Linked DNA regions of Homo sapiens. The gene in region 3 interacts genetically with the main gene of each other region. Each region holds a gene or a part of one and is shown on either strand. Other genes may lie near its edges.

The links. A genetic interaction does not mean that the proteins touch.
Region 1: changes in CDK12 (region 3) and PPP2R1A together harm fitness more than expected from each alone (negative genetic interaction), as found in Homo sapiens cells (one large-scale study listed by BioGRID).
Region 2: changes in CDK12 (region 3) and PSMD1 together harm fitness more than expected from each alone (negative genetic interaction), as found in Homo sapiens cells (one large-scale study listed by BioGRID).
Region 4: changes in CDK12 (region 3) and AOC3 together harm fitness more than expected from each alone (negative genetic interaction), as found in Homo sapiens cells (one large-scale study listed by BioGRID).

The regions. Positions count from the first base shown.
Region 1 is NC_000019.10:52,196,076-52,200,154, forward strand, and holds part of PPP2R1A (serine/threonine-protein phosphatase 2A 65 kDa regulatory subunit A alpha isoform), read left to right. Parts: intron 1-4,079. UniProt on the Homo sapiens protein: The PR65 subunit of protein phosphatase 2A serves as a scaffolding molecule to coordinate the assembly of the catalytic subunit and a variable regulatory B subunit.
Region 2 is NC_000002.12:231,167,891-231,171,969, reverse strand, and holds part of PSMD1 (26S proteasome non-ATPase regulatory subunit 1), read right to left. Parts: intron 1,405-4,079; coding exon 1,258-1,404; 3' UTR 1,249-1,257; intron 1-1,248. UniProt on the Homo sapiens protein: Component of the 26S proteasome, a multiprotein complex involved in the ATP-dependent degradation of ubiquitinated proteins.
Region 3 is NC_000017.11:39,526,566-39,530,985, reverse strand, and holds part of CDK12 (cyclin-dependent kinase 12), read right to left. Parts: intron 383-4,420; coding exon 1-382. UniProt on the Homo sapiens protein: Cyclin-dependent kinase that phosphorylates the C-terminal domain (CTD) of the large subunit of RNA polymerase II (POLR2A), thereby acting as a key regulator of transcription elongation.
Region 4 is NC_000017.11:42,855,936-42,858,727, reverse strand, and holds the end of AOC3 (amine oxidase [copper-containing] 3), read right to left. Parts: intron 2,454-2,792; coding exon 2,178-2,453; 3' UTR 604-2,177; downstream 1-603. UniProt on the Homo sapiens protein: Catalyzes the oxidative deamination of primary amines to the corresponding aldehydes with the concomitant production of hydrogen peroxide and ammonia. Has a preference for the primary monoamines methylamine and benzylamine.

The sequences.
Region 1 (4,079 bases), on a different chromosome or scaffold from region 3:
AAAGATTTGAGGAGTTGTATGCAAGGAAATGGGGATGAAGCCCAAATCTGTATCTCACAGTATCACAACTGTAGCAGGTGCTTGGTGGGGACACACTTGGGAGATAGTCAGTGCACAGGGAATTCTCAGGATATGACATGATCAATGGCCAGTCAAGGTTTCTGAAATGATATTAATAGATTTTCTATCAGGAATGTGACGGAGACCCCAACCTAGAGTTGTTTAAACAAGTAAGAGTTCTCTTTATTTCTCATATAGCAAGTTCAGCAGCTCAAAGCTATCACAGAATTGGGTCAGCTCAAAGATATCACAGAAATGCGGTTTTTTTGACTGGCCTGTTTTGGTTATAAGATTCCAGCAGCATCTGCTGTCCTAGTGGAACTGCACTTTTTAGTGCAGTTTAGCAGAGGCCAGCTTAGGACACAGAGGTTCTTTCCCTCCTCCCTTTTATGAAGGAGGAAAATCTCTCCTGAATCTCCTCAGCAGACTTGCTTGTATATCTCTTTGCCAAGAACTAGGTCATATGCAGAGTTAGTTGAAGTTAAGTTTGGCTGTAAGTAGTAGAAAAACTCTAAATAACAGGGGCTTAAATGAGCTTGAAGTTTCTATCTGACTGATGACCAAAATGTCTGGTGGCAATCCAGGCTGCTGTGGCACTTCATGGTGTCAGGGTCCCAGGCTCTTACCATTATGCGCTGGTTGTATCCTCCATTCTACCCTCCGTGTCCCCCAGGTTACCTCAGGTCCCCAAGTTGGCTGCCGAAGCCCCAACCATTATAGCTCCATTCCAGACAGGAAGGAGGGAAGATAAGTGTGACCCCCATCCCTATAAGTTGCACAAAACATTTCCACTTGGATTTTATTGGCCAGATGTTAGTTTTATAGTCACATTCAGATGCAAAGGCAATTCAGAAATGTCTTTTCCAGGGGTCATGTGTACAGCTGAAAACCAAGGATTATGAACAGCAGTATAGCCCCATGCAGGAGCTCCTAACTTGGGGATCATCTGCAATTCCCAGGCAGGTCCATGAATTTGGATGGCAAAAATAACATCTTTATTTTCATTAACCTTTAACTTACATTTAACTTCCCTTCTGTTATAGATTATAATATCACTATAGTATATCATAGGTAGCGTTAGCAAAACCTGTGACTTACCAGTGGAAATCAGGAGTTGTGTTCACATGTCATTTCTGCTATTATACATATCTTCTAGTGTTGTTTATGTTCACCTCTTTCAAAATTGCGTTCATTATTAGACCTGCTAAGGGGATTCATGGCACCACCCCACCCCTCTACAAGAGAAAAACCAAAAAAAGCCGGGTGCAGTGGCTCATGCCTATAATCCTAGCATTTTGGGAGGTCGAGGTGGGAGGATTGCTTGAGCTCAGGAGTTTGAGGGCAGCTTGGGCAACATAGTGAGGCCTCATCCCTACAAAAAGTTAAAAAACTAGCTGGGCTTGGTGACACCTGCCTGTAGACCCGTCTACTTGGGTAGCTGAGGCGGGAGAATCACTTGAGCCCGGGAGGTCAAGGCTACAGTGAGCTACGATTGTGCCACTGCACTCCAGCCTGGGTAACAGAGTGAGACCCTGCCTCAAAACAACAACAAGCACAACAAAAAAGAAAAAACAGAGCAAATATGAATCCATAGTACTGGTTAAGAACCTGGTGGCTGGGATTCAAATCCTGGCTTTACTACCAGTAAGCTGTATGCAGTTAAGCTCCCTGTGCCTTTGTGTTCTCTGCCTCAAGACGGGGGATTCTGTATTTCCCTCATGGGATTGTGAGGGTCAAATGAATTAAAACATTAAAGCCTGGGGCATAGTAGAGACTAAGGAAATATTTACTGTTATTATTCTGTCATGGTGAAAAAAGGGAAAAGAAACATCAGTGGACCAGCTGCCACGATGTCCTTCTTAATAATCTGAACAAAATCAGGATGCTGTCAGTGAGGCGTGGTTGCCACGGCTGCCATTATTAATCTTCCCCTGGTGCTAGGGTGTCCCTGTAGAATGTCATTTTGTACTCAAGACAACCCTCTGAGGGTAGGTATTCTCATCATCCCCACTTCACAGATGAGAAAATTGAGGCTCAGAAAGGTACAAGGATTGCCCAAGATTCCACAGCTAATATGTAAGCAGTTTAGCCTTGAACCTGGACAGTGCAGCTCTGTAGTACCACCCTAGGCCATCTTTCTCAAGCATTGATGATGCTGTCTGCCTGAAGAAACACTTTTAATGAAACCAAAAGCAGAATCCCAAAGAACAGCAGTGGAAGGAAGGGAGCTCTCTGGATGGGAAAGCAGCCTGATTGTCATGGGCCCACCTCTTGGGCATCCCCAGCTTCAAGTTGGGGTTCCCACGACCCCCTCTTTGGGTTTGATTAATTTGCTGGAGCGGCTCACAGAACTCCAGGAAACACTTAGGTTTACCGGTTTATTATAAAGGATATTCCAAAGGATACAGATGAAGAGGTGCATAGGGTGAGCTATGGAGGAAGGGGCGGGGAGCTTTCGTGCCATCCCTGGGGATGCCACCCTCCAAGAATGTGCATGTTCTGCTATCAGGAAGCTCTCTGAATCCTTTCCTCTTTGGTTTTTATGGAAGCTTCATGATACAAACATTTTTGCCTAAATGACAGTATGATATTGAAATTGAGTCAGGCTGCCTGGCTTCATTGCTTTCCAGTAAGTGACAGCCTCACCTCTGTGCATCAGTGTCCTCACTCGCCTCTGTGCATCAGTGAAGTGGGGACGCTGCTAACAATACATACCTCAGAGCAGTTATGAGGATTCAGTGTGTTAATCATCCATGTCAATCACTTGGATTGCTGCCAAGCACGTAGCAAACAATAAATGTTTGTTGCTATTGTTCTGGCATTTATGATTATGATTATTAATTGTAATTATTCCCTGTACCATCTCATTGTCCTCAGGGCTGTTGCTCACCTAGTATGGCCCTAGCCCATGTGTATATTTCCCCATAGCTCAGGCTGAGAGAAGAACACACAGATCAACTTGGAGAAAACAAAGAGGAAAGAAATAGGCAACTAGGTCAATACTCCCCACAGTATTTTATGTTATTTTATTTTATTTATTTATTTATTTGAGACAGAGTCTCACTCTGTCACCCAGGCTGGAGTGCAGTGGCACCATCTCGGCTCACTGCAAGCTCCACCTCCCAGGTTCACGCCATTCTCCTGCCTCAGCCTCCCGAGTAGCTGGGACTATAGGCGCCCGCCACCACGCCCGGCTAATTTCTTTTTGTATTTATGGTAGAGACGGGGTTTCACCGTGTTAGCCAGGATGGTCTCGATCTCCTAACCTCATGATCCGCCTGCCTCGGCCTCCCAAGGTGCTGGGATTACAGGCATGAGCCACTGCGCCTGGCCTCCCCACAGTATTTTATTATGAAAGTTTTCAGACATGCATAACTTTGGAAGACTAACACAAGGGTCAGCAGACTACAGTCCATGGGTCCAATTCAGCCCACTGTCTGCTTTTGCAAGTAAAGTTATTGGAACACAGCTATGCCTGTTTGCTTCTCTAGTTCTGGTTCTATGGTTGTTTTCAGTGCCACGCAAGCAGAGTTCAGTAGTTAGGTTTGCAAAGCTGAAAATAATTACTGTCTGGCAATGTATAGAATAAGTTTTGCTGACTTCTAGCATAGTGCAGTGAGCACCTCTATACTTACACCCCAGGTCAGTGATTGTTAGTGTTTGCTATATTAGTTTTTTATCTTTCTATAGGTCTGTCTCTATATACGTTTTATTTTTTAGCTGAAAATCAGTTGCAGGTTTTGTAGTACTTTATCCTGAGGTCCGTTTAATGCCAGAATGGTGAGTTTTTGGACTACCTGTATGAAAGATTTACTGTGTGCATTTTTCTGAGGAGAGACCATCACAACACTTCATCAGATGCTCATCGTCTGTGATCGCAGAGATATTCTTCAACTCCTGGACCGGAGAACCCAACTCACGCAAGATCTTAGTCACTTGTAGACCTCGTCTCAGTTATGTAGGGCCTCAGAACAGAACAGGCTAAGGGAGCTCCTGCTCCTCAACCTCGCCCTGTCCCT
Region 2 (4,079 bases), on a different chromosome or scaffold from region 3:
ATCTTTCCTAAATTGCTAGTCAGTATCTAACACACAGCATGCTAGATTTGCAACCAGACCTTTAAATATAACAAATGATACTGTCCTTATTTTTTTTAAAGAGTAGAATGAATTGGCCGGGCGTGGTGGCTCACACCTGTAATCCCAGCACTTTGGGAGGCCGAGGTTCGCGGATCAGCTGAGGTCCAGAACTTGAGACCGGCCTGACCAACATGGAGAAACCCTGTCACTACTAAAAATACAAAATCAGCCGGGTGTGGTGGCGCATGCCTGTAATCCCAGCTACTCGAAAGGCTGAGGCAGGAGAATCGCTTGAACCCAGGAGGCGGAGGTTGCGGTGAGCCAAGTTTGCGCCATTGCACTCCAGCCAAGAGCAACAAGAGCGAAACTCCGTCTCAAAAAAAAAAAAAAAAAAAAAAATTGTCTGAAAACGTGTTTGTGCTTGGGTGGAATTAGGAAACCTTGATTATGTCTCACAATGTCTTCAAATATGTGATGAACACTCAAAAGAAAATGGGGAAATGAAGAACGACAATTTCATGAAATTAGATTACTCCAAACTTTCCCATCTAAAGACCCCTTTCAACACTGTTAAGACACTGATATAGTAAATGATCTTTGTCAATGGACACAGCCTTGTGGTTAGTCTAACTGACCTCAAAGTCCCTATAAGCACTATGTCTTATACACAGTAGATATTCAATAGCACCATCATAGAATGAATGAATGTTAAGGCTTCTATGCCAAAAATACTGTCGAAGGAGATGGGGAGAGAGAAAAATCAGTGAGAAGCCTATATTTGTGCTACTCAAAAGTGTCACCTATGGGCCAGTGCCAGTCCACAACTATAACTGATCCACAACAAGAAGCTTACATCAGAATGTAAATCAGCTCTATCACTAAGCAAACTGCAGTTCAGCTGATGTTTTGGGGAAGACTTTCTTGATGAAAGAAGCGTTGAGCAGACAGATTCTGGAGTAAGCTTCCTATCTCCTTATGGACCTATAAAAATAGTTTGCAGACCAGCCACTTTGAATAACGTGAGTAGAGTACGAGTCAAAGAGGAAAGAAAAAGGAATTTGTGGTTATATATGCAGAAAAAGGTTGAAACGGGGAAGTTTTAATACTGTTTAGGTAAATAAGGATTAAACACAAAAGGAAGGAAAAACGTGAGATGATGTCCTTGCAAAAAACATTTGTGAAGTATTGACAAAGAAGTTTCCCTTCATAATTTTGTTGCACACGCACCTCTGGCCCTTAATCATCAATATACTCAAATGGTTCTGGGGGTTCTGGCTCTTGTTCCTCCTCCTCGATTTTTGGGCCATGTGCTGCCACAGGTTCCACCAGCTCCTCAATGTCTTCACTGGTATCCTTCAGAATGATGATGCCTCCAATAGAGAGCTGGAAACACAGGGGCGTGCAGAAGCGTACACTCATATTTCAAGCGTGCTCCACAATCTAGAGTAAATACTTGTTAAATGGTACTTTAAAACTACTTAAATGATTTGGAAGTGAAAAACTGGAGTAGAACTTTACTGGGATAAAGATAACTGTGATCTATACGAAGTATTTGCAAACTTAACCCAGTAGCTCTAGATGGTATAACATGTGATGCTGTTCTACTTGGATGATGCATCCCAATTTAAGAATAGTTATTTCCCAGCCATGGCCTTGACTACCAGCCTCAGTCTCACTGCAGGAAGAATGTTTACTGTCCAAATATAGTATCCTAATTCCTTCCTACTCAAGATATGGTCCTGGGCCAGAAGCATCATTATCATCTGGAGCTTGTTAAAAATGCAGAAAAGCTGGCCCCACCCTAGATCTGCAGAATCTGCATTCTAACAAGATCCCAGTCAATCTGATGCACACTGAAGTTTGAGAAGCAGTCTAATGCACACTGTATGATTTGTGAGATGATAATCATTTTGAACACGAGAGTGTATAAATTAAAAGCCAATTTTTTCTCCAGCAATTTCAGAATGATGGAGAGAATAACACAGATATCCCGGGTTTTTCACTTTAATCTATAAATCCACGTGATGCAAGCCGATGAAAAAATACATGGGAAACAAAAGGGAAGTAGACTGTAGCAGCAATTCTATTAAGCCCTCTCCCAAACATATTACAGAAGGTAAATTCAAACACTAAACTATTCACCCCTCTCTAGTGTGCTAATCTTATTCTATTTGCTTGCCTGTGTCAAAGGAAATGGAAAGCTGCTCTATGTAATTAAATCAGTCAACAGTGGCAGGGCACATCTGGAAAAAGCATATTTCTACCAAAGCACATTACTGGGAAGGAAAAGAAGCACAAGTACATTAGTTAAATGATTCACGTATGTATAAGCATCTCTGCAGTTCAACCTAATCCAATTTTTACTCATCAGAACTCTGCCCTGCCATGCTATAAAACTGGTGTGCTTCGTGAACTCCGAACTATTTCCCTTCTCCTGACACACACATATCTATACATTTTTCTACAACCCCTTCCCTTAAAAAGTTTGCTTTCCTTGAAGAGGATCCATTTTATGAATGGACCCTGCCCTTACTGCCAATACTCCCAGAATGGAGCATAGGGCCACTGTCCTAATCCTCCATAGCCTAAAAGTTTACTTGAACCTAATGGACCAAATGGAGATGAATCTCCTACCAAACAGAAGAAAATATCCACGTTCACATGAGGACTTTCTATTTTTTGGAAAATGTGGATCCAGGTTATGCTATTTCATGCTTAACTGGAATGAAATAATCCAACTTAATCAAAGGAAGGCCTCATCATACAAAAACAACAGTAACACACACACAAAAAAAAATCCCAAAACTAATAATCCAAATCAACACATGGAAAGGGCTGTTTATAGCTATACATGGTCTAGGTTTGTTAATGCTTTACATGTTGGTGGGAAAGTTCACACCCTCTATGCATAAGATATACGATTTTCTGTTCTCTGGGGAGGCTAATTACAACTGTAGATATAGGCAATGAAACACTTCCTCTTGCCTCATGGTGGACAGGAAGCAGGGTAGGAATGTTACTTGTTTCCAAAACTACAGCTGCCTCTTTCAAATGCAGTGTCTGAGGAAGGGTCCCATGACCTTGCCACTGAGGGTAGGGGAGTGAGTCACTGCACATACACAGAGGCAGTGTTTTCTTTTTTAAAATGAGATATATTAACATAAAATTCATTCTCTCAAAGCGTACAATTTAGTACATTCACAAACTTGTGCAGCTATTAATACTTCTGCTATCTAATTCAAAAATATCTGCATCAACCTAAAGAAACTGTGGGCCCAGTAGCAGCCACTCTCCATTCTCCCCTTCCCCTGTCCTTGGTAGCCACCAATCTAACTCGTCTCTATAGATTTGCCTTTTCTGAATGTTTCACATAAAGGGAACCAGACCATATGCAGTCTTTTACGTCTGGCTTCTTTTACTTAAAATAATGTTTTCAAGGTTCACACACACTGTAGCATATATCAGTAAGTCTTTCCTTTTTATGGTCAAATAATATTCCATTATTATCTCACATTATTCATTCATCAGTTGATAAGACATTTAAGTTGTTTCCGTTTTATGGCTATTATGAATCATGCTGATATGAGCGTTAGTGTGTAAGCTTTTGTGTGGGCACAGTTTTCTCTTCTCTTAGGTATGGAATGGAATTGCCGGGTCATATGATAAGACTACATTTAACTTTTTGAGGAACTGCCAAATTCTTTTTTTCCACTGTGGCTGTAACTTTACTTTCCCACTATTACTCTATGAGGGTTCCAATTTCTGCATATTCTTGTCTGTGCGGTCTTTTTGATTACAGCCATCCTGGTGGGTAGAATGTGATATCTTCTTATGGTTTTGTGTTTCTTTTTAAATTAAGAGATGGGATCTTGCTATGTTGCCTAAGCTGGTGTCCAGTGGCTGTTCATAGGCACAATCATATTGCACTACAGCCTCGAGCTACTGGGCTCAAGCAATCCTCCTGCCTTGGCCTCCCATGTAGCTGGGACTGTAAGTGGGAACCACTGCACCTGTTATGGTTTTGATTTGCATTTCCTAATGAGTAATGATGTTGAGCA
Region 3 (4,420 bases):
CTCAGAGAGCCTGAGAAGGTCCTGTTCTTCACCAGGGTCTGGACCAAGGATTCTGTCAAGGCTGGACCAGAGTTTCGTTCATCAGTGTCAATGGCACTGAACCCTGTTTCAGGCCCATCAGTGTTTCCATAAGTCCTGTTTGGACGGGGTCGGGTGGAGTACTCCATTGGTCTCAAGGCCTGGTGCTCATGTGGCAGGTGGCCAGGAGGCTCTGCTTCAGGCTGGGATAAAAGTTGCAGCAAGGCGGCTGTCACGGCTGGGTTCAACTCCTGGGGGGCGCTGGAAAGATCGCCTTCAACCAGAGGGGGTGGAGGTGGCGGCGGTGGAGGTCCGGGGGGCTCAGGGGGCCTCTTCTCTGGTGGAAGAATGTGAGGAGGACATGCTGTGGAAGGGTTACTTCTTTTAAACACCATCTTAAAAAGCACATGTGATTATAAACACAAACACACACACTGTGCAACATAAACAAATATCAATATAAGTAACCAGATATATAAAGAATAAAATCTTGGGATCAGAAAATTGCAATTATAAATAAATCAAGTGATTAAAAGTAAAACAGTTGCATCCTGGATCTAACAGCTAGTGTAAAAATATCATATGTTTCAAATGATTATCCTGATTTTGGTCTAAGATTTCCTCCATTTCCTTCCTTTAAAGAACTGTTCTAACATGCAGGCTGTTGGCAGACTCCCTGCCCCTTTTTGCTGTTAGATGGAAACATTAAAACAAAGCAGAAGGAAGGAAGATGAGAGGGAACAATATACATGCTGTGGTCACATTTCTAGGACATAATCTTGCTCTACAACAGAGACCTTGCATGGACTTGGCTAACACATTTTACAGAATGTTTGATGACATAGGTTAACCTGAAATAAAACTTAAAGAATATATAGGAGAGATAAAATAAAGTAAAAAGTTTTCATTACTGTCATGTATAAAAATACACTTGCTTCTCCAAACTTTAGTCACGTCTCCCCAAAATCATAGTCTGAAAGGATTGTAACTACCATATTATCATTCAGCTTCCTATGTTACAGTAATTTTAAAGACTAATTTCTATCATAATTTTCTATTTTGTTTTCCTAACTACTGCATTTTTTTCCATGCTATGAAAAAAAAATCACTATAGCAGTGTCATGCAGAATGAACTGTTGATAAACATCTGTTTATCTTGGAGACGGTGACAAGAACTAAATATTTAGAAATATATTAAATTCATACTATACTCTGTCTTTACAAAGATCTTTTGTCTTTCTTGAACTACTTCCACCAGACTTTCTTTTTTCCACTGCTGCCTAAATGTGCTTAAGCATGATAAACATTGTCTGATAATGAACTCCTGCCAAGGCAGGAGAGGAGAGATGTAAAATGGTATGAGTTTGAGGACAAAGAAAACCACTGAGACAGAAGTATGGTAGAACAATGCCTTTAGAAAATTGAGAGTCATCCTGCTGAAGAAAAGATTTAATGTTTTGGGATATCTTCCAAATGACCGATTTTTCTTTTCCCTATGGAAGCATATTTTAAAATATATATATAGTCATTCTTCAATTATCTAAGCTGTGATGTAAAGTCATTACTCAAAACAAGCCAAAAACAGTTTTTAGTTATAATTAGATATTTTTGTAGCATATTTACCTTAATTATATTTTGCAAAGACAATCAGTAATTAAGTTTGTATTCCCTTAGCATGCAGATGAAAGCACTCTGAAAACACTACAAAATTGTAAGGTTGTACAGTACAAAAGATGGTCAGGTGTTACATGTAACATCCAAGCAGGGTGACCAACAGTCCCAGTTTGTCTGGGACTGAGGGGGTTTTCCAGGTTGTCAATGTTCAGCTTTAAAACCGGGACAGTTCAGGAATGAATTGGTGACCCTATGTATAGTACCCACCCAAGTTATTTGTTGACTGATTGGCTGGTTGACAGGGTGGCAGGGGAAAATGAATTTAAGGACAAAAAATTAGCCATGGAAAATTTTGAACATGGAGAGTAGACATGCTGAAAAAGGAGGGCAAACTGGACTACAAGTAATGATAGATTTCAGAGCCTTTTGCTTTCAACACTCTCTATATAAGGACATCACTGTACCAGTTATTTAAAAAGTATTTCTGGACTACACATAAAATGGAACACGAGGATTTTTAATACCGAGGTCAAATAACTTAAAAATGTGTAACTGTAAAAGTGAGATAATCTAAACTTACATTCTTCCAGCTATGCCATTTTTTTGTATTCAAACTGTGCCTTTTATGTAAATAGCCTAATTATGTTTCAACAGAACTAACACTTGAGGTCAAATTCTTTCATATGTGTAAAATAAAAATTCTATTCCAAAGTAGCAAAGGCTGGGCATGGTGGCTCATGCCTGTAATCCCAGTACTTTGGGAGAACAAGGAAGGCAGATCACTTGAGGTCAGGAGTTAGAGACCAGCCTGGCCAACAAGGTGAAACCCCGTCTCTACTAAAAATACAAAAAAATTAGCCGGGCCTGGTGTCACACACCTGTAATCCCAGCTACTAGGAGGCTGAGGCAGGAGAATCGCTTGAACCTGGGAGGTAGGGTTTGCAATGAGCTGAGATCACGCCACTGCACTCCAGCCTGGGTGACAGAGCGAGACTCCATCTCAAAAACAAACAAACAAAAAAACTTATTAAAGTAAGCCTAATACTTCTTAAAGGAATTAAAAATATGAATTATAAATCATATTGTTATGATCTAAAGTATCAATGTTGTCAATCCTTAAAAGTATGGACTTTTGGCTGGGTGTGGTGGTTCACACCTGTAATCCCAGCACTTTGGGAGGCTAAGGCGGGTGGATCACCAGAGGTCGGCAGTTCAAGACCAGCCTGGCCAACACAGTGAAACCCCATCTCTACTAAAAATACAAAAAAAAATTAGCCAGGTGTGGTGGCAGGTGCCTGTAATCCCAGCTACTTGGGAGGCTGAGGCAGGAGAATTGCTTGAACCCAGGAGGCAGAGGCTGCAGTGCACCAAGATCGCGCCATTGCATTCCAGCCTGGGTGACAGAGAGAGACTCTGTCTCAAAACAAACAAAAAAAAAGTACGGACTTTCAGGATTGACAACAATAAGGATGTATTATTGAAATGTAAAAATAAATTTAAAACTTCAGGCCGGGGGTAGTGGCTCAAGCCTGTAATCCCAGCACTATGGGAGGCTGAGGCGGGCAGATCACCTGAGGCTGGGAGTTCGAGACCAGCCTGGCTAACATGGTGAAACCTCGTTTCCACTAAAAATACAAAATTAGCTGGACATGGAGGTGCATGCCTATAATCCCAGCTACTCAGGAGGCTGAGGCAGGAGAATCGCTTGAACCCAGGAGACGGAAGTTGCAGTGAGCCAAGATCATGCCATTGCACTCCAGCCTGGGCAATGGAGTAAGACTCCGCCTCCAAAAACAAACAAATAAACAAACAAAACCCTTCATTTTACTCATTTGATTTCAACTTATCACCCTTCCCAGTAAGTACAGAATAGTAAAACAGCAGCCCAATTAATAGGCTGTCACCTTCTCTGGTTTATACAGTCTGCCCTCTGGTGGAAGTGCTAATTAACAGTGAAATGGCCAAATAGAGATAGCAGGGGAGAAACAAGAACAAGTGAGCCACTGTAGAGGCATCAGCTGAATAATCCAGGGGTGACTGCAATAATTAGTTACGGCATCTCTACACTTTCCTCTGAAAAGTAAATCCAACAACTTCTGGCCATAGGCCAGGCCTTAAAACATATACTTTCTGCACCACCTCATATGAAATGTGAATGTAGGACCCTAAAGTTGAAGATTAGTATATCTCTTCAGCCCTCGAGCCTCTTCTTATTCCCCAATTCATGGGGTCTTCATGGACAGTGAGAATTTCCGAGGAGTTAAAAACATTTTTACATAAGTAAAGATTTTGCAAATACAGTGTGAATCAGAATTAAAGAACTTAAACTGCTTTTCCCTCTAATAAATTGCACGCTATGGTCATGTGAGATTAACGTATAACTTATCCCCATTTTCCTTTTTTTTCTTTATAATACACGCACTTCCTGATCTGGGGTCCATTCAATTGCTTCTATCAGAAACAGATTTAAAGGAATTGTTCTTATACACTATTATTTTTGGGAAAAGAAATGTATAGTGTTAATTATCTACTTAGAAATATTCCCAAATTATTCTTCAGGAAATTAACAATGATATTTTATTAGGGTTTTCTTGATTGTATCTTCCAGGAAAGACTGGCATTCAGCATCCACTCCACTAGAGGTAAAGAAGTATAGTCTGATAATGGTTTGTTTGGAAGTCAGATTTCCAAGTGCTAGGACTAGTTGGCCACCACACACAGTTCAAGATGTGTGGTTCAAGATGCATCACTAGCTATGGTTGTGGTTTCCTTGGTTAGAACACAGGGG
Region 4 (2,792 bases), 3.3 Mb from region 3:
TCCTGCCTCCACTCCTGGCCATATTATGAATTACTATGCCATTGAAGGCCCCCTGCTCCTTACTGAAGGCTTTCTTCCTGTTCTTTAGAGCCTAATTTCTCTCCAGCTCATTGATTCCTCCCCATCCATTGTTCCACTGACCTACGGCAGAACTTGGGCTTGGGGCAGAACAGAAGGTAGCAGAAGCTTCCATGATGCTGGAGCTCCCAGAACATATTCTGGTCTTTTTCTGGTCAGAAGCTGAGTGGCATCCAGAATGTTTCCTGCACTTTACCTCCTGCCCTGGCCTGGGCTTCTGGCAAGCAGAAGTCACCCCTCCTCACTGCTTCTCATTGCCCCTCATTGAGAGAGAGAGAAGACAGGAGAGAGGGAAAGGGTGGGGTGTGTGTGTGTCAGGGAATTAACCGAGGTTTAACATTTCCTCAAAGATGTACAAGCATGAGAAGGCAAAAGGAGTTACTAGAGGCCACACCTGCTTCTCTGGATCTCAAGAACTGGAGAAAATTTCATCCCTGGTCCCATTCCTTAACCCACTTTACCCTACCCCCAACCTGTTCCCCACCAAAAAAAAAAGTGTCAGTAAAAAAAAAAAGTCAATTCCTGTTTGGGCCCATTTATTGTTTATTTTGAATAGGTAATACAGTCACATGGTTCAAAATTCAAAATGTACAAAAGGGTGTAAGTGTTAAGACCCTTCCCTCTCCTGTCCTCAACCTACTGGTTCCCCTCCCAAAAGTAATCAGTGTTACCCATTTATTCTGAATAGGCATACATAAGCAATTATGTGTTTATATTCTACTCCTTTCTGAAACACAAATGGGAAGTGCGCTATACACATTTCTGTGGCTTGCCTTTTTCACCTGAAGATTATTACATATTAGTATATAAAGACATACAATTATTTTTTAGCTGCATACTATTGTATTGTAAGGCTGTATCAGAATTGATTTAACCAGTCCTTTAGAGAAAAAAGTTTCTGTTGTTTCTCATCTCTTGCTATTTCTTTGTCCCCATCCCCAATCCAGACCTCAGGAGGGACAGCAGTGATGGGAATGGAGCCCAAGCCTGGACCAGGCCAGGCCCTGCCCCACCCAGGCCAGGCCCCTCCCCACTAGGCCAGACCCCCACCTCACCCAGGGCCCAGCTCATTCGCATGCCTGAATGTGATTGGACAGCCCCTCCTGGCTGGGTGGCTGGAGTTGTAGGGGCTTTGGCTTCTCATCTTTGATGCCCACCCTTTGTTTCCACTCCAGCCTCCCAAACAGGCTGTTGCAGAATACAGAGCCCTGGTACAAAATGGCCATTCTTCATTATCATTGCACCCCCAAATCACTTGAAATGCTAACTTGAGCTGCTGCTGTCACGATGACCATCCTCCTCTATAGAGAGCATGAGGCAGGCAGACACAAATGCACAGAAGCAGCTGTCCTGAAACACACCCAGCCCCAGGACAGGGGTAGGAGCAACTCCTACTCCCAATAAGCAACAGACACAAGGGAACGACACACAGGGATTGGCCACTCTGATTAGGGGTCCCGTGACCTTGAGACTTCCATAGGGCTGGAGAGGAGACGGAACTTGACTGAAAACTGAGGGCTGGGGGAGTACCAGGGGCTGGGACATAGGGATATCCCCTCAGGATTCGGGAGAAATTGCAGGATAGAAGAGAAGGCAGGAACAGGAGGAGGAGGAGGAAGTAGGTGAGAGAGAGGAAGACGAGAAGGAAAGGACCTGGATGAGAGGGAATGTGAGCAGAAGCATCCTTTCCAGCTCAGCTATGGACTTGCAGGACTGGCAACCCTACTCTGGGGTCTCCAGGGAATAGCCCCCTTTTAGAGTCCTTGGAGGTGGCCTAAAAAGATTCGGGAAAGCCAGACAGCAACAAAGGGAACCATCTAGGGAAGCCCTCGGCCACGGCTCCAGGCTGGGCCATGCCTGGCCTCTGTGGATGAGAACTCAGTACAGCTGGCATCAACAAGGTTCAGTGTCCCCTGTGTCAGGCATCACAGGGTCAGGAGGCTCCTGGCTCAGAGGCGGATGCGAGGGAGGGTAGTGGAAGAAAGAGAGTCCTGGCACAGGAAAGAGGGAACCAGGCTGCCGGCCCAGTGCCCAGCTGCTCCCCATCCCTCACACCCTGGCCCTGGAGCCCTTGGCCACATGCCCCATCCCAGGACCGCCTAGTTGTGAGAGAAGCCCCCGTGGGAGAAGGCAGGGAGGTCGGGGGCACAGGCAGCAGCCTGGGGCAGGCAAGCTAGGGGGTTGACCTCGCAGGCCCCAGCATCCTGGTCCCCTCGGAAGTAGATGGAGTCGGCAGAGTAGAAGGAGGGGTCTTCGTCAAAGAAGTTATAGGGTCGGAGGAAGAAGCCCACGCCGTTCCCCACAGTCACTGTGTTAGGAATGTCCTCTGCATGTGGGATATGCAGAAAACCAGCTGTCACCCAGGCCACCAAATCCTAGCAGGGGAGAAGAAAGAGGATCACGAGGTCTGGCTTTGCTGAGGACATGCCCTGGTAGGGATTCAGCTCACCAGCCCAAGGATCATGAGTCTTTAAACATTTTTTCCTGCTGGGTAGGAGTCAAAGCATAAGTAGTCCATTTCATATTAGGAACACCTGCTTCCCTGTCCCTGGCTTGCAGCCTCCATCTCTGACATTTCCCATCATATCGCCCATTGCCTATCTACCCCCAGAGGGTGACACCCACAGGCTACTTCAGCTCCTCTTCCCCTAACTCTCCAAGAGTTCCCCACAACTGAGGAAAGAAGGGTGGAGGAAAAAGAACCAGCGCTTGGG